Linked DNA regions of Homo sapiens. The protein of the gene in region 2 purifies or fractionates together with the protein of the main gene of each other region. This does not show direct contact. Each region holds a gene or a part of one and is shown on either strand. Other genes may lie near its edges. The genes, in order: ALDH16A1, PCMT1, MAN2C1 and KLHL18.

What was found.
Region 1: the proteins of PCMT1 (region 2) and ALDH16A1 purify together in Homo sapiens (affinity purification with mass spectrometry; 3 studies listed by BioGRID and IntAct, with this or other methods). This does not show direct contact.
Region 3: the proteins of PCMT1 (region 2) and MAN2C1 purify together in Homo sapiens (affinity purification with mass spectrometry; 3 studies listed by BioGRID and IntAct, with this or other methods). This does not show direct contact.
Region 4: the proteins of PCMT1 (region 2) and KLHL18 purify together in Homo sapiens (affinity purification with mass spectrometry; 3 studies listed by BioGRID and IntAct, with this or other methods). This does not show direct contact.

What each region holds. Positions count from the first base shown.
Region 1 is NC_000019.10:49,463,220-49,470,253, reverse strand, and holds part of ALDH16A1 (aldehyde dehydrogenase family 16 member A1), read right to left. Parts: intron 6,401-7,034; coding exon 6,305-6,400; intron 6,128-6,304; coding exon 5,991-6,127; intron 5,838-5,990; coding exon 5,732-5,837; intron 5,623-5,731; coding exon 5,492-5,622; intron 4,517-5,491; coding exon 4,349-4,516; intron 4,173-4,348; coding exon 3,971-4,172; intron 1,874-3,970; coding exon 1,688-1,873; intron 1,391-1,687; coding exon 1,268-1,390; intron 1-1,267.
Region 2 is NC_000006.12:149,801,720-149,808,753, forward strand, and holds part of PCMT1 (protein-L-isoaspartate(D-aspartate) O-methyltransferase), read left to right. Parts: intron 1-480; coding exon 481-660; 3' UTR 661-697; exon of another isoform or gene 698-812; intron 813-1,405; exon of another isoform or gene 1,406-2,074; intron 2,075-3,583; exon of another isoform or gene 3,584-3,620; intron 3,621-7,034. UniProt on the Homo sapiens protein: Initiates the repair of damaged proteins by catalyzing methyl esterification of L-isoaspartyl and D-aspartyl residues produced by spontaneous isomerization and racemization of L-aspartyl and L-asparaginyl residues in aging peptides and proteins.
Region 3 is NC_000015.10:75,355,284-75,358,633, forward strand, and holds the end of MAN2C1 (alpha-mannosidase 2C1), read right to left. Parts: intron 3,336-3,350; coding exon 3,179-3,335; intron 3,062-3,178; coding exon 2,918-3,061; intron 1,833-2,917; exon of another isoform or gene 1,620-1,832; coding exon 1,510-1,619; exon of another isoform or gene 1,403-1,509; coding exon 1,323-1,402; exon of another isoform or gene 1,167-1,322; coding exon 1,018-1,166; exon of another isoform or gene 937-1,017; coding exon 827-936; exon of another isoform or gene 750-826; coding exon 623-749; 3' UTR 509-622; downstream 1-508. UniProt on the Homo sapiens protein: Cleaves alpha 1,2-, alpha 1,3-, and alpha 1,6-linked mannose residues on cytoplasmic free oligosaccharides generated by N-glycoprotein degradation pathways.
Region 4 is NC_000003.12:47,327,933-47,334,966, forward strand, and holds part of KLHL18 (kelch-like protein 18), read left to right. Parts: intron 1-2,018; coding exon 2,019-2,217; intron 2,218-5,224; coding exon 5,225-5,385; intron 5,386-6,750; coding exon 6,751-6,887; intron 6,888-7,034. UniProt on the Homo sapiens protein: Substrate-specific adapter of a BCR (BTB-CUL3-RBX1) E3 ubiquitin-protein ligase complex required for mitotic progression and cytokinesis.

The DNA.
Region 1 (7,034 bases), on a different chromosome or scaffold from region 2:
ACCTGCTTCCTCCGCGATGAAGACTGTTACTGACGAGGGGCTTCAGGCTGGACCCAGGCTCTGCAGCTACAATGCCCAGCTCCTCCCAAGCAGAACTTCCAGATGGTAGGGAAAAGCACTGGACCCAGTGGTTAGGGAATTTCCTCTCCCTTAACAGCCCATGTTGAAAGGAATGGGCCCCAAGGCTCTTGTCAACAAGTTCACATCTGTTACCAACAGGAGGTTTAAGAGAGTGGACGGTGGGGCGCGGTGACTCGCTCCTGTAATCCCAGCACTTGGGGTGGCTGAGGCGGGAGGATCGCTTGAGTTCAGGAGTTTGAGACCAGCCTGGACAATATGGCGAGACCCCGTCTCCATTTAAAAAGTAAAAATTGGTTGGGCACAGTGGCTCACGCCTGTAATCTCAGCATTTTGGGAGGCTGAGGCAGGCAGATCACGCGAGGTCAGGAGTTCGAGACCAGCCTGGCCAATATGGCGAAACCCCATCTCTACTAAAAAAAAACCCCCAACAATTAGCTGGGCATGGCGGTGAGTGCCTGTAGTCTCAGCTACTTGGGAGGCAGGAGAATCACTTGAACCCGGGAGGCAGAGGTTGCAGTGAGCCAAGATCGTGCCACTGTATTCCAGCCTGGGCGACAGAGTGAGACTCTGTCTCAAAAAAAATAAAATAAAATAAAATAAAATAAAAAAAAAAACAGTAGACTCAACCAGTTGTGCTGGCTCACACCTGTAATCCCAGCACTTTGAGAGGCCGAGGCGGGCAGATCACTTGAGCCCAGGAGTTCAAGATCAGCCTGGCCAACATAGAGAAACCCCAGTCTCTGCAAAAGAAAAAAATTAGCTGGGCATGGTGGTGCACGCCTGTGGTCCCAGCTACTCAGGAAGCTGAGGTGGGACGGTGGCTTGAGCCTGGGAGGTTGCGGCTGCAGTGAGGTATGATTGCATCTGGGTGACAGGGTGAGGTTCTGTCTCAAAATAGAAAAACAAAGCGTAGACTGTGGGCCTCCAAATCTAGGGTGTGGTCCTTAGCAACGGGCTGTCCCCTGAGACGAGGTCTTTGGGCTAGGCAGCTCTCAGGCCCCTGTTGCTAAGGACAGCCTCTTCCTTAGTAACTTGAGTCCTAAGGGCGGGGCCTCAAAACCTTCTTGTCAAGGAGTTTCTCCCCTTACCAACAGGAGTTCTAAGAGGGCGGGGCTGTGTTTCCAGAAAAGGAGGAGCCTGTTTGAAGTTTGAGATGCTGAAGATGGCAAAACAGAACAAAGAGCACCTGGGCTGATCCGAAATACCACATGGCCTGGACGTCTTGGTGCAAGGCCAGGCAGCGGGTCAGATGGTCCCGGTCTCCTGTCACCACGTTGGCCAGGCCTGCTGGGAACACGGTGGCCATGTCCTAGGGGATAGAGAGAGTGAAAGGTTGGGGAGGCCGTGGGGGCAGGGCAAGGAGTGGGCATTCAGGGGGTGCCCATGGGAGGGAAGGGGATGGGGGGTCATGGAGGAGAAAGCCCCAGGCCTAGGGTGAAGAATGGGCACTGGGTCCCCAAGGAGTGAAGGTTTGGGTGCTGGGGCTGGGGGCAGCATGGGTACCACGGAGGGTGGGGTAAGAGACAAGCTCCTGCCGACTTTGGGGCGCCTTTTTCTGCTGCCCTGAGGCTACGGGGAGGAGAGGCAGGAAGGCAGGGGGCTATACCTGGCAGACCTCCAGGGCCAGCAGAGGACAGGCCGCACTGGGCACCATGACCACAGTGTTGCCGTAGGCCAGGGCGGGAGCCAGCAGGGACACGAAGGCAAGCAGGGGCCACTCGTCCGGACACACCACAGCCAGCACACCCAGCGGCTCCCGCAGGCGCAGCACAGGGCCTCTCAGCCCGGCTACCTGCAGGGACAGGTGGGTCACGTGTGGGGCAGGGGAGCCCCGCCCGCAGTAAATGAGAGATCCAGTTCCTCTACATTCTCCCCAACACTTGGTGTTGGCCCAAACCGCACCATTGTGGAAGCCCCTGCCATTTCGCAGACGCTGGTCAAAGTGAATCATTCCACGGGGGTTCGGGCGGTGAGAAACATCCTGCATAACCGCCTTTCTTTTTTTTTTTTTTTGAGACGGACTCTCACTCTGTCGCCCTGGCTAGAGTGCAGTGGTGCGATCTTGGCTCACTGCAACCTCCGCCTCCCGGGTTCACGCCATTCTCCTGCCTCAGTCTCCTGAGTAGCTGAGACTACAGGCACCTGCCACCATGCCCGGCTAATTTTTTTTTTTTGTATATTTAGTAGAGACGGGGTTTCACTGTGTTAGCCAGGATGGTCTCGATCTCTTGACCTTGTGATCTGCCCACCTTGGCCTCGCAAAGTGCTGAGATTACAGGCGTGAGCCACTGCGCCTGGTCTATTTTCTTTTGTTAAAAATAAATATGGTGTTGGGGGGTGGGAGGCAAGGGGAGGGAACTTAGAGGGCAGGTCAATAGGTGCAGCAAACCACCATGGCACGTGTATCCCTATGTAACAAGCCTGCGCGTTCTGCACATGTATCCCAGAACTAAAGTAAAATAAAATTTAAAAAAAAGAAGGCCGGGTGTAGTGGCTCACACCTGTAATCCCAGCACTTTGGGAGGCCAAGGTGGGCGGATCACGAGGTCAGGAGATCGAGACCATCCTAACATGGTGAAACCCTGTCTCTACTAAATATACAAAAAAAAAATTAGCCGGGTGTGGTGGTGGGCACCTGTAGTCCCAGCCACTCGGAAGGCTGGGGCAGGAGAATGGCGTGAACCTGGGATGCAGAGGTTGCAGTGAGCCGAGATTGCGCCACTGCACTCCAGCCTGGGCGACAGAGCGAGACTCTGTCTCAAAAAAAAAAAAAAAAGAAAGAAAGAAATATGGTTTGGCCCATGATATAGTTCAGATGTCCCACCCAAATCTCATGTTGAAATGTAATCCCTGGCCAGGCGCAGTGGCTCACGCCTATAATCCCAGCACTTTGGGAGGTCAAGACAGGCGGATCACTTGAAGCTAGGAGTTCAAGATCAGCCTGGGCAACATGGCGAGTCTCTTGTCTCTGCAAAAATACAAAAACACCCAGTCATGTGTGCTGGTGTGTGCCTGTGATCCCAGATACTCAGGAGGCTGAGGTGGGGGGCTCACTTGGACCTCGGAGGTTGAGGCTGCAGTGAGCCATGATTGTGGCACTGCACTCCAGCCGGGTGCCAGAGGGAGACTGGTGCCAACATGCCCAGCTAATTTATCTATTTTTTGTGGAGACAGGGTTTCACTGTGTTGCCCAGGCTGGTTTCAAACTCCTGGCCTCAAGCGATCCACCCACTTTTGCCTCCCAAAGTGCTAGGATTACAGGCGTGAGCCACCATGTCTGGCCAGGTATTTTTTGTTTTTTGTTTTTTTTTGTGACACAAGGTCTCACTCTGTCACTCAGGCTGGAGTGCAGTGGCACGATCTCGGCTCACTGCAACCACTGCCTCCTGGGTTCAAGCAATTTTCCTGCCTCAGCCTCCTAAGTAGCTGGGACTATAGGTGCCCACCACCGTACCCAGCTAATTTTTTGTATTTTTAGTAGAGACCAGGTTTCACCGTGTTGCCCAGGCTGGTCTCGATCTCCTGACCTCGTGATCCGCCTGCCTCAGCCTCGCGAAGTACTGGGATTACAGGCGTGAGCCACTGCGCCCCCAGGTGTTTCTTTACAGCAATGTGAGAACCGCCTAACAGCCCACTAAATTGATTTTAGGGTCCAGGAATGGGTCGCTATCCATCATCTGGCGAACGCTACTCTACGAGGCGGGTTGTGTGCCCACTCACTGTACAGATGAGGGAACTGAGGTAGGGAGAGGTGAAGCCACTTGCTGATGATCCTGCCGTGGAAGGCGGTGGGGCTGGGCCCGAATTCCAAGCCTGGGTTATCTCACAGCCTCTGGTCTGAGCCCCACCCCGCCTGCCCAGCTGGCCCAGGTGCCCACAGACCCTTCACCTGCAGGGTGTGGCCTTGGGCCTGCACCCGGGCCCCCCACGCCCGAAGTCGTCTTGCGCTCAGCTCCACCTCCGCCTCCGCAGCCTTGAGCTCCGCTCCCTGCCTCTCCAGCCTCGAGGCCAGGGTAGACTTCCGGCGCTCCAGTGCAGCCGCCAGGGCCCACAGCAGGGCTGCCCGGGCTCCTGGGGACTGGCCCGCCCAGCTGTGGGCAGACAGCGCACAGTGGGGGTTGGCATCCTGGTCTTGGCTCTCCTGACACCCCACCTCTGTCCACAGCCCCTACCCTGGGGGCCCAGCCTCCCAGTCCACCAATTGCTGTGGGCAGGCTCCCCTCTCTGCCACACCATGACCCTTGGGCTTTCCCGTGTGACCCCTTACCCAGGGAAAGCCTGGTGAGCGGCCTCCACAGCACCTCGGATGTCCTTGGCTCCACCCTCAGCCACGTAGCCATGGAGGTTGCCAGACGAATCCCGGATGGGCCTGGAGCTTCGGGCCCCAGGAGCCTGGAAACGGCCCCCAACGAAGAGCCCATAGGGGGGTGCTGGGCTGGAGTAGGGTGGGACATGAGGAGGAGTCCTGGGGCCTCAATCTGCTCAGACCCTATGCTCTACCGCACTGGGAAGACTGCCTTGGCTCCCGTGAGCCTCTGGGGCACCCCAAACCCCTGTTCCCATGAGCCTCTGGGGGACCCTAAAACTCCTGCTCCCATGATTCACTGGGGGACCCTAAACTCCAGCTCCCATGAGCCTCTGGGGGACCTTAAACTGCTCCCATGAGCCTCTGGGGAACCCCAAATTCCTGCTCCCATGAGCCTCTGGATGACTCAAGTTTCTGCTCCCATGAGCCTCTGGGGGACCCCAAACCCCTGTTCCCACTAGCCTCTGGGTACCCTAAACTCCTGCTCCCATGAGCCTCTGGGGGACCCTAAACTCCTACTCCCATGAGCCTCTGGCAGACCCTAAACTGCTCTCATAAGCCTGTGGGGCACCCCAAATTCCTGTTCCCATGAGCCCCGGAGGACCCAAAGCTTCTGCTCCCATGAGCCTCTGGAGGACCCTAAGTTCCTGCTCCATGAGCCTCTGGGGGACCCTAAGCTCCTGCTCCCATGAGCCTCTGGTAGACCCTAAACTGCTCCCTTGAGTCTCTGGGGGGACCTCAAACTCCTGCTCCCATGAGCCTCTGGAGGACCCCAAGTTTCTGCTCCCATGAGCCTCTGGGGGACCCCAAGCTCCTGCTCCCATGAGCCTCTGAGGGACCCCAAGCTTCTGCTCCAGTGAACCTCTGGGGGACCCCAAGCTCCTAGACCCATGAGTTTCTGGGAGAGTACAGACATTCATGGGGCAGAGCTGAGAGTCTCGGCAGGCCTGGGGTAGGGAAAGTGTGAGGCCACAACGTGGTACTCAGCAGGACTAAGAGATGGTTTGGATGGACCTCGCGCCAGCCCTCCAGTCCACGGGGAAACAGGCATCAATTCCCCTCTCCCCGTTCACACTCCCAGACCACTGGCCCCCAACGACTCACCTGGGCCCTATTTCAGGCCCAGCCGGCAGGGTTGAGGGAACAGCGAGGCCAAAGGTGTCATAGTTCAGGTTCTTGGAGAGGCAGGACAGCCGGGCAGGGGTCCCTGAGGGCCGCAGATACTCATACAGCCCCTGTGAGAGGGACGGTGTCAAGAGGATGCAAGGGGCACGCGAGGCCGGATGCGAGTGTCAAGGGCATGGGGCGGCGGGGGGGCTGGTGACGGGGAGGGGATGTACTCACGTCTGGGCCCCCGTGCCAGGAACACCCACTCTCCTTGCAGCCGCCTGTGGGCACCGAAGGGTCTCTGAGGCCGTGGGCGTTGATCCAGACAGTGCCCACCTGGAGCCTGTGGGGAAGATGAAGGTGTCCAACAGAGGAAAACAGACGGTGGCAGGCCGGGAGAGGGGTGAGTTAAAGGCGCGGGGAGCGACCCAGGGAGAAGGGAGATGAAGATGGAAGAATGAGGAGAGGAGTGAGCGCCCGGGCCACGCAGACTGACCCATAGCCCAGCTCCAGCGCCTGCCCCAGCCTCTCGCTCCACACACTGGCGCTGCCCCCGCGGGGCGTCCCGTTGGCCACCAACAGTGCCTCCTTGGCTGTGCGGAAGGGGGAGGCCACGACCACAGGCCACGGCACCTGCAAGGGGTGACCGGGAGGCTCAGCCCTCCAGGGCCCACCCACCAGGGAAGGAGCCTAGAGCAGGCAGCAGCCCCCACGCCCAGGTCACATGGTTACCCCAAGGGCTTCCCCAGGCACAGAGCTGCTGCCCTTGGCTGGCGGTGGGTAGGAGCTCTGCAGCCTTAAGGGTCTCACCTCCACCTGGGCACATGGGGAGGCTGGGGGCAGGTTGGAGACCAAGGTTGGGGGATAGAATGGGCGTTCCGAAGGCACATCACCAGCCTGGAACACCTAGGGAGAGAAATGATCTAGAAGTCGACTTCTGGTCCCTTCCTGCTGAGACCGAGGACTGCAGGACCCCAGCCCCTCCTCCCTCAGACCCAGGAGTCCAGGCCCCCAGCCCCTCCTCCCTCAGACCCAGGAGTCTGGACCCCCAGCCTCTCCTCCCTCAGACCCAGGAGTCCAGGCCCCCAGCCCCTCCTCCCTCAGACCCAGGAGTCTGGACCCCCAGCCCCTCCTCCCTCAGACCCAGGAGTCCAGGCCCCAGCCCCTCCTCCCTCAGACCCAGGAATCCAGGCCCCAGCACCTCCTCCCTCAGACCCAGGAGTCCAGGCCCAGCCCCTCCTCCCTCAGACCCAGGAGTCCAGGCCCCCAGCCCCTCCTCCCTCAGACCCAGGAGTCTGGACCCCCAGCCTCTCCTCCCTCAGACCCAGGAGTCCAGGCCCCCAGCCCCTCCTCCCTCAGACCCAGGAATCTGGACCCCCAGCCCCTCCTCCCTCAGACCCAGGAGTCCAGGCCCCAGCCCCTCCTCCCTCAGACCCAGGAATCCAGGCCCCAGCACCTCCTCCCTCAGACCCAGGAGTCCAGGCCCAGCCCCTCCTCCCTCAGACCCAGGAGTCCAGGCCCCCAGCCCCTCCTCCCTCAG
Region 2 (7,034 bases):
TCACAGGCGTGAGCCACCGTGTCTGGCCTTAATTTGTATATACTAAATAAAGAACGTTTCTGCTTTCTGCCTATGGACACTAAAAGTTGTTTATAATGATGTCAAATGACTATTAATATAAAATCTGGGCCGGGCACAGTAGCTCACGCCTGTAATCCAAGCACTTTGGGAAGCCGAGGTGGGTGGAGTACTTGAGGTTAGGAGTTCGAGACCAGTGTGGCCAATATGGTGAAACCTTGTCTCTACTAAAAATACAAAAATTAGCTGGGCATGGTGGCGTGTGCCTGTAGTCCCAGCTACTTGGGAGACTGAGGCAGGAGAATCACTTGAACCTGGGAGGCAGAGGTTGCAGTGAGCTGAGATCGTGTCATTGCACTCCAGCCTGGGCGACAGAGTGAGACCCTGTCTCAAAAATAAATAAATAAAATAAAATAAAATCTGTAACTTGGTGATGTATGTGCTTTTTTTTTTTTCTTTTAGCTAATAGATCAGTTAAAGCCCGGAGGAAGATTGATATTGCCTGTTGGTCCTGCAGGCGGAAACCAAATGTTGGAGCAGTATGACAAGCTACAAGATGGCAGCATCAAAATGAAGCCTCTGATGGGGGTGATATACGTGCCTTTAACAGATAAAGAAAAGCAGTGGTCCAGGTGGAAGTGATTTTATCTTCTGCTCTTTCTTCTTCCACACATGCAAGGTGAAAGGGTGTGGATTTTAAGACATTAGACTACAAGAGCTGTTTTTGGTTGTCACCTTTATGCTCCTCCATTATAACGTCAGAAATTCATTACATTAAAAATGTGAAAAATGTTGCATGGTCTGCCCTTATTTTGGTTTAACATATATATCTTTGGGAAAGGGAGGGTGAGACTTGGTTGGCACAAAGGCTTTTTTTGTTTGTTTGTTTGTTTTTTTTTTAGAGAGACTTTCAGCTTCAATTCAGTACTTTGTAAGGATTTTTTCTTCATTATCAGCCACTCTGTTTTTATGTTTTTAAATTATTTTTATAGCACTGGATGGGCATGGAAACAATGAGTTTGGTCTGTAAAAGAGGCCAGGCGGAGTGGCTCATGCCTGTAATCCCAGCACTTTGGGAGGCCTAGGTGGGCGGATCACTTGAGGTCAGGAGTTTGAGACTAGCCTGGCCAACATGGTGAAACCCCGTCTCTATTAAAAATACAAAATCAGCTGGGCGTGATGGCACAGGCCTGTAATCCCAGCTACTCGGGAGGCTGAGCCAGGAGAATTGCTTAAACCCTGGAGGCGGAGGTTGCAGTGGGCCGAGATTTTGACACTGCACTCCAGCCTGGGAGACAGAGCAAGGCTCTGTCTCAAAAAAAAAAAAAAAAAAAAAAAAAAAAAACAAGGGGCCATCATTTCCTGCCCTGTTTATTGTACCAACAAGGAGAAAGAAGGGGAAAGATAACGGTCGTCTCAGTTTTCTAAAATGTCAGAATACCAGAGAGGACATTCTACCTCTCAGCTTGGTTTATCTGTTTCAACCAAATCATAGATACCTGACAGCCCATGCCTATTTTTCATTCAGCCTTGTTTAAGAGTCACCTTCTCCCCATTCTATAGAATAGGCCAGCCACTGTTTAAGCTATTCTGGCTAAATTCCTAGGAAGAGGCAAGGATTCTACAAGTTACCCAATGAGTGCCCAGGTCTCACAAACCCACCCAGAGGGTCAGCAGCATGCAGCAACTTTCAGCACAGCATGGTTTATAAAGAATGTCCACTTTTGTTTTATGTCTCAGCATAATCTGAATATTTTGTTTGAAGCCAAGATTTCTCTTTTCCTCCCCTTCCCACTCCCTTCCATGAGAGAGAGTGACATCAGTACATAACAGTGCCATTAGCTCAAATTACTTGAAATTAAATGCCAAAACAAGAACGGCTTTACAGTTTCCTTGTCTTAGCATCTTATTTTTATTTGACATAAAGATTCTTATTTTAAAATAATTAGTTTCTTAATAAGTAAAAGGGGTGATAATAAGTTTAATAGATCTCTCAATGTTGTTTTTATTCTTCACCAATAGCTATTTTCTGTGAATTATACGTGGAGCACAGCCACTGGAAAAAAAAAAAAAAAAAAAAGCATTTTAGTCCAGGCATTTTGGGAGGCTGAGGTGAGCCAATCATCTTAAGTCAGGAGTTTGAGACCAGCCTGGCCAACATGGTGAAACCCTGTCTCTACTAAAAACACAAAAATTAGCTGGGCATGTTGGCTTGCATCTGTAGTCCCAGGCACTCAGGAGGCTGAGGCAGGAGAATTGTTTGAACCCAGGAGGCAGAGGTTGCAGTGAGTCGAGATCACACTACTGCCTTCTAGCCTGGGTGACAGAGCGAGACTCTGTCTCAAAAAAAAAAAAAAAAAAAAAAATTAAAAAGGCATTTAAAAAATTACTGGTTTTTTCAACTGGAATCAGATGTAGTTATTAACAACTAACTAAAACCTTCCTTCACTTTGCTTCTAGTATGGTTTATACAATTACATAATTGTGAGATTATTGTAGTATAAAAGGGGCAAATATGTTACTGAAATTACTGAAATTTGATAAGAAGAGTTGATTTTCATTAGCAACTTAGAAATTTTTCTTTTTATATACAATAAATATTAGTGTTGAACATCTTGCCTATAATTTATAATTTATAATTATGAAGGAATTATAAAAAGGGAATTTTGTTTTTATGACTAGAGGTAGATTTACTGTGAAGCTAACAAAGCTGAAGCTGCAGAGCCCTTGCTTGTCTAGGTTTTCTCTGACCCTGTTCTTAATTTAATTTAATTTAAAAAAGTGTTTTTTTTGAGACGGAGTCCTGCTCTGTTACCCAGGCTGTGTAGAGCAGTGGTGCAATCTCAGCTCACTACAACCTCCGTCTCCCAGGTTCAAGCAATTCTCCTGCCTCAGCTTCCCAAGTAGCTGAGAGTATAGGCGCCCAGCTAAATTTTGTATTTTTAGTAGAGAAGGGGTTTCACCATGTTGGCCAGGCTGGTCTCGAACTCCTGACCTCAGGTGATCTGCCCGCCTCGGCCTCCCAAAGTGCTAGGATTACAGGTGTCAGCCACCATGCCTGGCCCTGTTCTTAATTTTATATTATGCATAGTCTTACTGATTTTTTTTTTAACTTCATAAAAAGGTTCCCCTGTTTTCTAATTATATAAACCTTAGGCCCCCACAAAACCTGAATCCACCTTTGATAAAACCAAACTATTTGTATTAAGAAATTTAAAATAGGGCCAGGTATGGTGGCTTATGCCTGTAATCCCAATGCTTTGGGAGGTTGAGGTGGGAGGATCACTTGAGGCCAGAAGTTCAAGAGAAGCCTGGGAAACATAGTGAGACCTCGTATCTACTAAAAATTTAAGAACTAGCCAGGCGTAGTGGTGTGCACCTCTAGTTCTGGCTACTTGGGAGGCTGAGATAAGAGGATCACTTAAGCCCAGAAGCGGCAGTGAGCTGTGATCACCACAGCATTCCAGGCTGGGCAACAGAGCAAGACCTTATCTTTAAAAAATATATTTAGAATAATTTTTAAATTTATGGACAATTAGTCATCTGCTAAACATTAAATGTATACCTGCTTTTAGGCTGGGCGCAGTGGCTCACGCCTGTAATCCCAGCACTTTGGGAGGCCAAGGCGGGCAGATCACAAGGTCAGGAGATCGAGACCATCCTGGGTAACATGGCGAAACCCCGTCTCTCCTAAAAATACAAAAAAATTAGCCGGGCGTGGTGGCAGGTACCTCTAGTCCCAGCTACTCGGGAGGCTGAAGCAGGAGAATGGCGTGAACCTGGGAGGCCGAGCTTGCAGTGAGCTGAGATCGCGCCATTGCACTCCAGCCTGGGCAACAGAGCGAGACTCCGTCTCAAAAAATGTATACCTGGTTTTCTTTTTGACCTTCAAAGTTTTTTAAAAATTGAACAAATTTAGGCTGGGCACAGTGGCTCACGCCTGTAATCCCAGCACTTTGGGAGGCTGAGGCGGGCGGATCACGAGGTCAGGAGATCGAGACCATCCTGGCCAACATGGTGAAACTCCATCTCTACTAAAAAAACAATACAAAAATTAGCTGGGCGTGGTGGCAGGCACCTGTAATTCCAGCTACTCGGGAGGCTGAGGCAGGAGAATCACTTGAACCTGGGAGGTGGAGGTTGCATTGAGCCTACATTGTGCCACTGTACTCTAACCTGGCGACAGAGTAAGACTCTGTCTCAAAAAAAAAAAAAAAAAATTGAGCAAACTTACATGTTCGCACTATCAGAAAAAAAAAAAATTTCTCCAGGTGTACCAGGAGGACTTTCTAATTTTTCTGTTGTAGATGCTTTTCTTTGGCCATTTGTTCAGTTGCTAAATATTTTTCAGCGTGAGGATCTTCTTAATATTATTCGTGAATTCAACCAATATGCATATGCCAACTAGGCCAGGCACTGTACTAGGTGCCAGGAGTCATCAGCTGTGAATTTGAAACTGACTGCTCTCATGGAGCTTACAGTAACGTAGGAGATGCAAAGACCAAGATGAATAGGCAGTTATAGGGTAGTGTTCAGACTCGCGGTAGGGAGCCAGGCATTGAAGTGGTCAGAATTACATTTCAGAAAGATAACTCTAGCTGTTATGTAGAGACTAGCCTGGGAAGGGACAAAAGTCGAGTCAGAAACAGGAAGTGGTTATAGCAATTCAAGGATGAAATGATGGTCTGCATTAAGGCAGTGTTAGTAAGGATAGAGAGAAGTGGGTGGATAGCTACATCTAAAATACTGTCACTGTTTTCTGGGAATTATCATCTAAAAAGTTCCCTAGTCAACTTCTTGCCAGGCTACGTGATTTCTGTTCTTTCAAACTTTCCGTTTTTGTTTTTGTTTTGTTTTATTTTGTTTTGTTTTGATACAGTCTCTCTCTGTCACCCAGGCTGGAGTGCAGTGGCATGATCTCTGCTCACTGCAGCCTCAACCTCCTGGGCTCAAGCGATCCCCCCTGCCTCAGCCTTCTGAGTAGCTGGGACCACAGGGTGTGCCACCATACTCAGCTGATTTTCTTGTTTTTTTTGTAGACAAGGGGTTTTGCCATGTTGCCCAGGCTGGTCTCGGACTCCTGAGCTCAAGCGTTCCACCCACCTCAGCCTCCCAAAGTGCTGGGATTACAGGCTTGAGCCACCAGCCTCAAACTTTCTTCAGGATTACTTTAACTCATTATAATACTTTCCTAGGAACCTTCTCTTGTGTCTCACCAGCTTTCCACCTTTCTTACTGAGGAATAATCCAGAGCTAATTGCGGTGCTCTGATGAGGGTGAGATCCCATTTTTGCTGAGGCGATGTGGCAGAAACTGTATTTTTAAAAATGAGAATTAGTGGACATGTGGAATTCTAGTACCAAGTAAAGATCCAAACTTGAATGTAGACTTGAGTCTTTTTACACTTGGAAAGATGTCACTTGTAATTTTGGTGGATTAATAGAAGGGGAGACAATGCCAGATCTATAGGCCAGAGACCTAGAATCTGTGGAATTGTGTTCATGACTATGGACATGTAATAGTTGTATTAGTTGCTACAGAAAGTTAATAGTTCTTAAGTATTATTTTATTTTAAATAAATAATTTATATGTAAAAATATTTTGTTAATCTTCTGGTAAAAGTTTTATTTTTATTTATTTATAGATATTTTTGAGACAGAGTCTTGCTCTGTCACCCAGGCTGGAGTGCAGTGATGCGATCTTGGCTCACTGCACCTCCGCCTCCTGGGTTCAAGTGATTCTCCTGCCTCAGCCTCCCGCATAGCTGGGACTACAGGCACGCACCACGAGGCCCGGCTAATTTTTGTATTTTTAGTAGAGACGGGGTTTCACTGTGTTGACCAGGCTGGTCTCAAACTCCTGACATCAAGTGATCCACCCGCCTCAGCCTCCAAAACTGCTGGAATTACAGGTGTGAGCCACCACACCCAGACTATTTTTGTTTTTAGTAGTCACAAGAGTTAGTGTAATTGGTCCATCTTTAGTTTGTGAAACTGAGGAATGTTCAAGTTTATTATTCCATAAGCTCTTTGTTTATTGATGTCTTCTTAAAGTGCCTTGCATCTATGAAAAAGATGTTAGGAATTGACTGCATTTCCAAGACTGACAGTATTGGTGCTAAGGGATCCAATTGATCCCGTGTTCCATATTCTATATTGTTCCTTTTTAATCTCTTTACATATGTTCCAGTATTGTGACATACATTACATCCTTAAAAGCAGGGATATATTCTGTTACTTTTGGAATTCTTTTTGTCTCTCATAGTGCTTCGTACAAAGCAAATTGTACAACACTTTTATTACCTTGGAAGATCCATGAAATTATTAGAAAACGTTCATGGATTTTGATTGTTGTTTCCTTATAGTATATCTTTTCATTTATTCTTGGTAAAGAATGTATAAGACTAAATGTTAGTATCATAGAGTTAATAAAATCTAATAAATAATTAAATTATGTATAATTATATACTAGTAGAAATATATACAGTTATTAACCTAATGAATATATTTAGCATAGTATATAGCAATTTTAAAGAGCCTTTCTAAAAATTTAGTACATACTATTTTTTATTGTAAATGATCTATACATGTAAGTCAGATAAAGAAATGGTCATACAGAATTTTGAACATTGGGGAAAATTTAATAACTTGAAAGTTACATGGATTTTAGAGTATTAGGCTTTTAAAAAATTGTGCACGCGCTGGCAGCAAGTTTTTGTTTTTCCCTAGCACCTCTAATTTTAAAATTCAGGTCTATAAACCTAATTTCTTTTCCTTTTTTAAAGTATTTTTTAGACAGAGAGGATAGTTGGAAAAATGGTACCTATGTTGTTGAGGGGGCATTAATTTATTTACAGTATACTTAATGTCTTGCAGCAGGTAAATTGTAGTAAATTATTATTATTATTATTGTTTTCTGAGATGGAGTCTCGCTCTGTCGCTCAGGCTGGAGTGCAGTGGCGTGATCTCAGCTTGCTGCAACCTCCGCCTCCCTGGTTTAAGCGATTCTCCTGCCTC
Region 3 (3,350 bases), on a different chromosome or scaffold from region 2:
GAAGGGCCTGCTGTCCGGTCCTGGTGACAGAAGGCCCAGCTCCTCACAAGGCAAACTGAGCCCCCATCCCAGTCCTCAAGGCTCTGACTCTATCAGAGGACAGTTTGCCTCTGCAAGGACAGCCCCTCAGAGGTGGTACAAAGACCCTGGCCCCAGGCAGCCCAGGAGCCAGAGCTCCTCCAGTCCAGATTCTCCAGGGTCCAGGGCTGCCCCCTCATCCTGGCAGGAGCCAGGCAAAACCCACCCTTCGGCCCCTCCCCAGCCCCAGGCCCAGGCCCTTTACCTGCTGGCACAGGGGAGGGGCTTCTCAACTCATGGTCTCTTCACTGGCTTTTGGTGGCTCGAGGTCCCCAGTCTCTCCTGTGGGGGCTGCAACCCAGACCCTGCACGCACAGGTACCTTAGGATCTTGCCCCTACCCACCAAATACCTGGGAAGCCATCCCACCCCAGACTTCCCACCCCCACCCCAAGCGTGAGGATGGGCCCTAAGGGGACTGAGCAGCAGGGTTCCCGATCCAAGGATTTATTCCACAAGAAAAGACTGATCCCTGCTTTAGGCTGGGGAAGCAGAAATTAGGAGTCCCCAGAGCCTTCTACAAACAAAACCCCAGCCCCAGGGACTCAGTGTGGCGGAGGCTGAAGCACGAGCAACAGGGACAGCACTTGGAAGGGAGAAAAGGTGAGCTTCAGGCGGTTGTCCCGAAGGGTCAAGTGGCCAGCAGGGTCTGGTCGCTCCAAGAGATCGCAGCTGGAGAACAGGAGGGGCCATGAAGGCTCTGCGAGGGCGAGACTCGACCCCCGCCCCAATCCCACACCGCCACTCACAGGATGGCCTCCTGAACCGGCAGCGACAAGTGCAGCCAGCAGTCCACGTGGCTGCCGTGGGCCTCATACAGCCTCAGGACCAGCGAGCGGCGCTGGGGGCTGCTCTCCGCCTGCAGAGGAACACGTCTGGTGGGAGGGGCCGAGGGCAGGCCCAGTTCGGAACCCCGTCCCCAGCACGTCCCACCCCTTGCCTGCTTGACGGTCTCCAATACGACCGCGGGTGAAGACACGGAAAACGCACTCCAGGAGGTGGCGGGCGCTGGGCTGGGGGCTGGCAGAGCCAACAGGGGGAAGTTTAGGCTGTAGGCAGCTTGGATAACGCCAGCATCCTGGAAAGAGCCTGGGGTACGACCAGGAAACAATGCTGGTGGAGAATGGGGGCTACCCTCCCCTGTCCCTAGAAGGGGCAGGAAGCCAGGTTGCTGGGGTTTGGGCTCAGGGAAGGGCAGAGAGGTGTCTAGGGCTGCAGGAAGGCCCCACCGTCCCCAGCACTCACCCTTGTGCGGCATCAGTGCATAGGTGAACTCGTGGCGCCCCGTGTCAGCAGTAGCGTCCGGGGCTTTAGGCGCCCGCAAGCTGGGGTGAGGAGGGCGCGTAGGGGCCACGCTGAAGCTGTTGGAGTTGTGGTCGGGAAGACCCATTTCTCCATGCCAGCTCCCAGGCCTGGTGGGTACCCCACTTACAGCGAGAGGCTGAGGATGCTGCCTCGCACTGACGCGCCATACTTGCAGTCGTTGAGCAGGGCCAGCCCAAAGCCGTGTTCTGACAGATCCATCCAGCGATGGGCCCACACCTGGAGGGCAGATCCAAGACCCACTTGGTGGCCCTGTGCCCCTCTTTGTGCTCCCAGACTCCAGAGCTCCTGTCACTAGGCCGAGCACAAGCTCTAGAACCACACAACTGAACTCCAGCTCCCACTGTACGGGGCCCTGGGCATGCCACCCAACCTGCCTAAGCCTCAGTTTCCTTATCTGTGAAACGGGAATAAATAATAGTACTCACCCCATCGAATGATCATGAGTATCAAATTAAATGTAAAACTTTGTTTTTTTCACACAGGATCTCAGTCTGTCACCCAGGCTGGAGTGCAGTGGCTTGATCTCGGCTCACTGCAACCTCCGCCCTCCAGGATTCAAGTGATTCTCCTGCCTCAGCCTCCCAAGTAGCTGGGATAACAGGACATGTGCCACCACGCCCGGCTTTTTTTTTTTTTTTGAGATGGAGTCTCACTCTGTTGCCAGGCTGGAGTGCAGTGGCACAATCTCAGCTCACTGCAACCTCCGCCTAAAGGGTTCAAGCGATTCTCCTGCCTCAGCCTCCCGAGTAGCTGGGATAACAGGACATGTGCCACCACGCCTGGCTAATTTTTCTGTATTTTTAGTAGAGATGGGGGTTCACCATGTTGTCTATGATGGTCTCGATCTCTTGACCTCGTGATCCGCCCACCTCGGCCTTCCAAAGTGCTGGGATTATAGGCCTGAGAACACTGCGCCTGGCCAATTTTTGTATTTTTTTTTTTTTTTTTTTTGAGACAGAGTCTCGCTCTGTCGCCCAGGCTGGAGTGCAGTGGCACGATCTTGGCTCACTGCAAGCTCTGCCTCCCAGATTCACGCCATTCTCCTGCCTCAGCCTCCCAAGTAGCTGGGACTACAGGCGCCCACCACCACACCCGGCTAAATTTTTGTATTTTTAGTAGAGACAGGGTTTCATCGTGTTAGCCAGGATGGTCTCGATCTCTTGACCTCGTGATCCACCCACCTCAGCCTCCCAAACTGCTGGGATTACAGGCGTGAGTCACCACGCCCGGCCCAATTTTTGTATTTTTAGTAGAGATGGCGTTTCACCATGTTGGCCAGGCTGGTCTTGAACTCCTGACCTCAGGTGATCCACCCACCTCGGCCTCCCAAAGTGCTGGAATTACAGGCGTGAGCCACTGTGCCTTGCCAATGTAAAGCATTTAGTGCAATGCCTGGCACACACGTTAGGAAGCAGCAAATGTTGATTATCCTCTTCCTCCCCAGCCTGTTCCACACAAGCAGTCTCCCCAGCCAGGGAGGAGTCCAAGGCCACTCCCACCCTGCCATGTCAGACCTCAAATCGAGCCCAGTCCCAAGAGGTATTGTAGTGGGTAGGTCGCTGCAGGTGCCCAAACTGGATCTCATAGGTGGCCTGGGAACTCCGCACGCGAGCAGGGAACTCCACCTTCAGGAACTTGTGGGCCTCATGCCAGTGTACCTGGGAGTGGGAAGGAGGGTGGGAGTCAGGGAAGGAAGAGACACACCAAGGCCTGGGGCTGGCCCCTCCTTACCAAGCACACTTGGGGAAAACAGCCACCCCCTACCCCCCGACTACCTCGGTGTGGAAGCGGACATAGGGGCAGCCAACGTCCAGCACAACCTCCTGGCTAAGCCGACTGTTGGGGCTGATCTGTAGCAAGAACCAGGCGCTGCCCCGCAGGCCGCCCTCGGTGCCCACTGCCAGGGTCCCTGCCTGGCCCAGCACAGGCTTCCTATGGGACAGGGGT
Region 4 (7,034 bases), on a different chromosome or scaffold from region 2:
CAATTTTTAATCTGATCAATACCATCCCTACAGAGAATCAGTCATGGAGCCAAATAAGAATCCCCCAGGGTCTGCTGCTGTCACCAAGATTTTAGAATCGCACTGGGCTCGTTTGGAATTTTCTTAGATGCAACAGTAGTAAGAAAAACAAGCTGGGCACAGTGGCTCATGCCTGTAATCCCAGCACTTTGGGAGGCCAAGGCAGGAGGATTGCTCGAGCCTAGGAGTTTGAGACCAGTCTGGGCAACATAGGGAGATGCTTTCTCTACCAAAAAACACTTTTTTTTTTTTTTTTTAATTAGCTAGGTGTGTGGTTTCAGCTACTTGGCAGGTTGAGGTAGGAGGATCACTTGAGCTCAAGAGGTCAAGGCTATCATGAGCCATAATTGCACCACTACACTACAGCCTAGGTGACAGAATAAGACCTTGTCTCAAAAAACAAAAACAACCATAATAAAAAATTAAGACAGCCATTAACTTCATACCAGGTACCATGTATCATGGCTCAGCCCTAAGAGGTGGGTAGCTGTTGTCATCATCTTCTTTCAGGTGAGCAAATTACTGACACTTGGAAGAACATAACCCACCCAAGTTGCCCCATGAGCATCAGGGCCAGGATTTATCCTGGGTTTCTCTAGCCCTGATGAGTGTAAGTCTGCCAGGCTACCGTGGGAATGTGCACAAGAGTCCTGATTTCAATCTCAGCACCACCACTTGCTTATCTCAAGGGACTGTGAGCACCATTTTTGGTTTCCCTGAGCCTGTTTTCCATCTGTGAGTGCGTTACTACTTTACAGGTTAAGAAGATTCTGGAGAATGTGTATAAAAGGCCTAGCAAAACACTTGACTCACTGATGGTAAATAAATGATAGCTGCTGCTGTTGTTTCTGCTTGTCTGAACAATTAGGCCCGTGGAGTCTCTTTCTATCTAAAACAAGAAAAAATCTCAGCATTTTGGGAGGCCGAGGCAGGTGGGTTGCTGGAGTTCAGGAGTTCAAACCTGCCTGGACAACATGGTGAATCCCTGTCTCTACCACAAAAAGTACAAAAATTAGCCAGGCATGGTGGCACCTGTAGTCCCAGCTACTTGCAGGGCTGAGGCAGGAGGATCGCTTGAGCCCAGGAAGTCAAGGGTGATGTGAGCCGTGTTCACGCTACTGCACTCCAGCCTGGGGGACAAAGTGAGACCCTGTCTCAAAAAAGAAAAAAAAGGAAAAAAAAAGACAAGTATAAGAGTTCCCATACTAAAGAAGCCATCTGTCCGTGTTGTGTTTTTTTTGTTGTTGTTTTGTTTGTTTTTTGTTTTTTGTTTTGAGACGGAGTCTTGCTCTGTCGCCCAGGCTGGAGTGCAGTGGCGCAGTCTCGGCTCACTGCAAGCTCCGCCTCCTGGGTTCACAGCATTCTCCTGCCTCAGCCTCCCAAGTAGCTGGGACTACAGGCGCCCGCCACCACACCCGGCTAATTTTTTGTATTTTTAGTAGAGACGGGGTTTCACCGTGTCAGCCAGGATGGTCTTGATCTCGTGACCTCGTGATCTGCCTGCCTCAGCCTCCCAAAGTGCTGGGATTACAGGCGTGAGCCACCGTGTCCAGCCCTGTCTGTGTTTTTTAAACTCTAATTCTGTGACTTCAGTGCCTTCCTTGTGACCAAAGTTGAGATAATGCCCTGGACACTCAACCAGGAATTTCAGTGGTGGAACGTCTCAAACAGATTTTCAGTGCCTGCACTCCTGTGATGGTTACTTCTCACCTTCTGACAGTTACTTTACAGAACTACCCAGAGAGCTCATTCCACCTGACGCACAGAGCACCAGGCCCAAAAGGCAGGGACCTTTGAGGATAATCTTTCTTCTTAATTTTATACCTTTAGAAGTTGAGTCCCAGAGAAATACAGTTTCCAACAAAGCTGAGGTTAAGAATTTGTTTTCATTCTGTGGCTCTACCCAGAACCAGCCTGAGAATGATCAAAGATAACATCCTTTCTTCCTCTAATTTTTTTTTTCTTTCCTTATGCCAAAGGCTTCACCCAAAAAACTGCCTGGGTGTGCGCCAGTTTGCTGAGACAATGATGTGTGCTGTGCTGTACGACGCTGCCAACAGCTTCATCCACCAGCACTTTGTGGAGGTGTCCATGTCAGAAGAGTTCCTGGCCCTGCCCTTGGAAGACGTGCTTGAGCTGGTGTCTCGGGATGAGCTGAATGTCAAATCTGAGGAGCAGGTATGTGAGCCCAGTAGCAGTCTGTGCAGGTGACATGAGATGCTGCTCTTTATAGTCATTGTTTTGTTTATGTATTTTTTTACAAAGTTAAGATCATGACATGTATGTGGCTGTTGTATATTATTGGGCTTGTTTTACTGTATCATGCATTTTTCATGAAAACTTTCTATGTTTTATTTATTTTTTTGAGATAATATCTTGCTCTGTCACCTAGGCTGGAGTGCAGTAGCAAGATCATAGCTTACTGCAGCCTCATCCTCCCACATCAGCCTCCCGAGTAGCTGGAACTACAGGCACATACCACCACACCCAGCTAGTTTTTGTATTTTTTGTAGAGACCGGGTTTCACCATGTTGCCCAGGCTAGTCTTGAACTACTGTCCTTAAGTGAGTTCAGCCTCCCAAAGTGCTGGGATTATAGGCGTGAGCCACCGCACCTGGCCTCCATACATTTTAGTGTCTAAATAGCATTCTGTTGATTTTTGTCAACCTACTCACCTTATTCTTGCATGTTTGGGTTATTTCCAATATTTACTATTAGAAATAATCCTCCTGTGAACCAGAAACAGCAAGCATAGATAATTTTTTTGTTGTTTTTTTGAGTCAGAGTCTCATTCTGTCACCCAAGCTGGAGTGCAGTGGTGCGATCTTGGCTCACTGCAACCTCCATCTCCCAGGTTCAAGCAATTCTCCCGCATCAACCTCCTTGAGTAGCTGGGATTACAGGCATGCACCACCATGCCAGGCTAATTTTTATACTTTCAGTAGAGACGGGGTTTCACCATGTTGGCGAGGCTGGTCTCGAATTCCTGACCTCAAGTGACCCGCCCATCTTGGCCTCCCAAAGTGCTGGGTTTACAGGCGTGAGCCACTGTGCCCGGCCTAGTATAGATAACTTTTTGAAAGAATCTTGTTCTAAGGAAGAACAGAACATTGGGGCAGCTGTGGGAGGGGTCTGTGAAATCAAGAGGGGTTGTTGTTTGTTTGTTTTTGAGAAAGAATCTTGCTCCAACGCCCAGGCAGGCTGGAGTGCAGTGGCAACAATCTCAGCTCACTGCACCTCTGCCTCCCGGGTTCAAGCAATTCTCCTGCTTCAGCCTCCCAAGTAGCTGGGATTACAGGTGCCCGCTACCATGCCTGGCTAATTTTTATATTTTTAGTAGAGATGGGGTTTCACCACGTTGGCCAGGCTGGTCTTGAACTCTGGCCTCACATGATCCTCTCACCTTGGCCTCCCAAAGTGCTGGGATTATAAGCATGAGCCATCATGCCAGGCCTTTTTTTTTTTTTTTTTTTTTTTGTGAGACAGAGTCTCACTCTGTCACCCAGGCTGGAGTGCGATGGCACAATCTCAGCTCACTGCAGCCTCAGCCTCCCAGGTTCAAGCATTTCTCCTGCCTCAGCTTCCCAAGTAGCTGGGATTACAGGTGTGCGCCATCATGCCTGGCTAACTTTTGTATTTTTAGTAGAGACGGGGTTTCACTATGTTGGCCAGGCTGTTCTCGAACTCCTGACCTCAGATGATCTGCCCACCTCGGCCTCCCAAAGTGCTGGGATTACAGGCGTGAGCCACTGCGCCAGGCCCGACCTTTTTTTTTTTTTTTTAAAGTGAGAGAAATTACAGCATATTTGACTGCTGTTGGGAGTTTTCCAGAAGAGAGGGAAGAATTGATAATATTGGAGAAATGGGAGAGCAGTTGTTGGAATGATGTTCTGGAATAAGTGAGGACAGTCTAGGGCATAAGGGTGTGCATCTTTGATAGGAGCACAAGCCATCCATATCCACAGTAGCAGGAGGGAGAGCTGGGGCACACGCCCAGGGACGGGGGACAGGTAGATTCTTACTGAAATTCTCTTCTGATTTTCTATTTTCTCACCTGAGAGTGAGGATGAGGGACGAAGGTTAGAAACTTAAGGAAGGCCGGGAGCAGTGGCTCACGCCTGTAATCCCAGCACTTTGGGAGGCCAAGGTGGGCAGATTTGTTGAGCTCAGGAGTTTGAGACCAGCCTGGGCAACATGGCAAAACCCCATCTCTACTAAAAGCACAGAAGTTAGCCAGGCCTGGTCCAGCTTAAACTCCTGGCCTGTAATCCCAGCTACTTGGGCTGAGGTGGGAGGATTGCTTGAGCTGGGAGGCAGAGGTTGAGGTGAGCTGAGATTGCGCCACTGCACTCCAGCCTGGGCGATGGGGCAAGACCCTATCTCCAAAAAAAAAGAAAGAAAGAAAGAAAAGAAAAAAGAAATTTGAGGAGGGATTAAAAGGTATGATTTATTTTCCTCTTTCCTCTAGAAAAGGGGGATGCTAGAGAGGTGAAGCGGGCTTGATAGGAGCCTGGGAGAAAAGTGGATCCTGGGCTTGGCAGCATAGACACTGTGGTTTCGAGGAAAAAGCCTCATTCCAAAAACTAGGTGTCCTGTCCCTAGCTCTTAAACTAATTAATATGACGGGGGGCGGGGGGGCAGCTCACATTTCTTTGAGTGATACATTTCATAAGGGCTGTAGGGCTTTAGAGGGAGAGGTCCTTGTGGTTGGAGCCATTAAGAAAGGCTCCTTGGAGAACATGGATCTAGAGCCAGGCCTTAAAAATAGGGGAGTGGGTTTAGATGAAGAGGAGGAGATGAGGGCATTTTAGATGAGGGGGGACAGTGTAAACAGGAGAACCAGCCCAGCCTTGCCGGAGTACAGAGAGGGTGATGGAGGGAGTTTAGAGGGAGCAGGGGTACAGGAGCAGCGGGAAGGGAAACAGGCATTTTGTTTTCACAGAAAGTAATAAGATGCCATTGATGATTTTTCACTAGGAAATCATAATCATAATGAAATTCAGGAAGCTGTTCTAGTAGCCTAGGAAGTAGAGAGAAATCAGGGATTTCAGAGACAAGTAGGAGAAAAGATTGATGGGCCCAAGGGACTGCTTCAGTATAGGAAGTGGAGGCATTGAGATTGGAGGCCTGGGGTGTGGCCTCTGGGTGGGAGGATTTGCTGCCAGAACATCCACTCTCATGACAGGTCTTTGAAGCTGCATTGGCCTGGGTCAGATACGACCGGGAGCAGAGGGGTCCCTACCTGCCTGAGCTGCTGTCCAATATCCGCCTGCCCCTCTGTCGGCCCCAGTTCCTTTCAGACAGAGTACAGCAGGATGACCTGGTGCGTTGCTGCCACAAATGCAGGTGAGTGAGGGTGGACCTGCACAGGACACTGCCAAAGGTCTAAGCAGGGAAGAGGAGTTGGCCACCTGTTCCAGTTCTGGAAAGAAAGCATTTAGAGTGATCAGTCTAATTCATGGCACACAGATTGGTCTGCCCTCTGTCTAGAAGCTGGAACAGGAAGTGTGAAGAGCCCGAATCTTATGCCTTGGGCAGAGAGATGTGCCATGTGGGAGCATCAAAGCAGAAAGGGCTTTCCCCTGCTGAGTTATCTGAGGATTTTCCAGCATCTTTCCCCACTGAGCTATTTATGAATGTGCAACCATCTTTACTGCCTGCTCTGACCCTGTCCACACCAGCAGCTCACTCAGTGGCGCAAATGGGACTTCCTGGGGCTCATTGCCCTCTTCAGTAAATATTAGTCAGTGCTGTGGGCATGGAGGGCCTCTGCCAGGTGTAGGCTTTACATCTACGATGATGGGCAAGGGGCAGACATGTTTACCAACACATGAAACTTTTACCCAGAGCAAATCAATGACAACATGGTACAGCAGAGTTACCCAAACAGTTCAGAAGATGGCAGCCCTATAGGATGATTGCTGTAAAAGTAGAACAGCAGAGAAAAATGTTCATTCTCCTCCAGATTGCTTATCAAATTCACAACCCTGAAATATTTTTTTCTCCTTTGCTGATAAAAACTTTACACACATTCAGCTTTCTTTCATTTTCCAACTCCTGGTTGGGATCAGCTGGTTCAGGAGGAAGTAAGTGCCTGTCCATGGCAGATGGTGTGAAGGTGTGTGTCAGGATGGGGTGGAGTAGTGTCTGGAGGTAGCTAGGGCCCAGTGACCAGCGGTCTCAAGGGTGCTGTTGAGGAGTTTGGACTTTATTCTGTCGGCAGTGGGTGGCTATTGAAGGTTCTTAGCTTGAACTCTAGTGTGGAAGTGGAATGGAGGGGCAGGCCTGAGGCAGGGAAATGTGTCAGGAGCTGCCACCGTGGAGATGAGTGGTGATTAATTGCAGGTTGCAAGCCACGGTGCAGTCGTAGGGATGGAAAGGAAGGGCTAGGTCTGAGTGGCAACAGGGTGCATGCTGCTTGTCGAAACTCCCAGGTCCAGCCATTTTGGCCACTACCTTGTTTTTCTCATGCCTAATCTACACTAGCTGAGGTGGTCTTTGCTTGTCTTGCCCCTTTAATTTTGAGTATATCTCAGTAGCCATGTATGATTTTCCCAGAACTCACCTGGTTTCTTTGAGACCAGACCTTCCAGAAGGCTTCTCCTCCCAGGTTTCCCCTGCAGTTGGCAGTGGAGAGCCAGGCTCAGAGATGCAAACGAGGACTAAGTCAGGGGGATACCTCCTGTTCTAGCATCTTCCACCTTATTCTAGGGACCTGGTAGACGAAGCAAAGGACTACCACCTCATGCCAGAGCGCCGGCCCCACCTGCCAGCTTTCAGAACCCGGCCACGCTGCTGCACATCCATCGCTGGACTTATCTACGCTGTAGGGGGCCTCAACTCAGCAGGTACCTTGCGGCTCCCCTTTATAGACCCTCCTCTTGGACTCCATGGATGAGGAAGCACCAGACAAATTAGCCTGGCCCTTCTGGTTTCTCTGTTTTGTACTGTCACCACCCTTGCCCCTCTTGATTTTATACAATTGCTCTACAGTT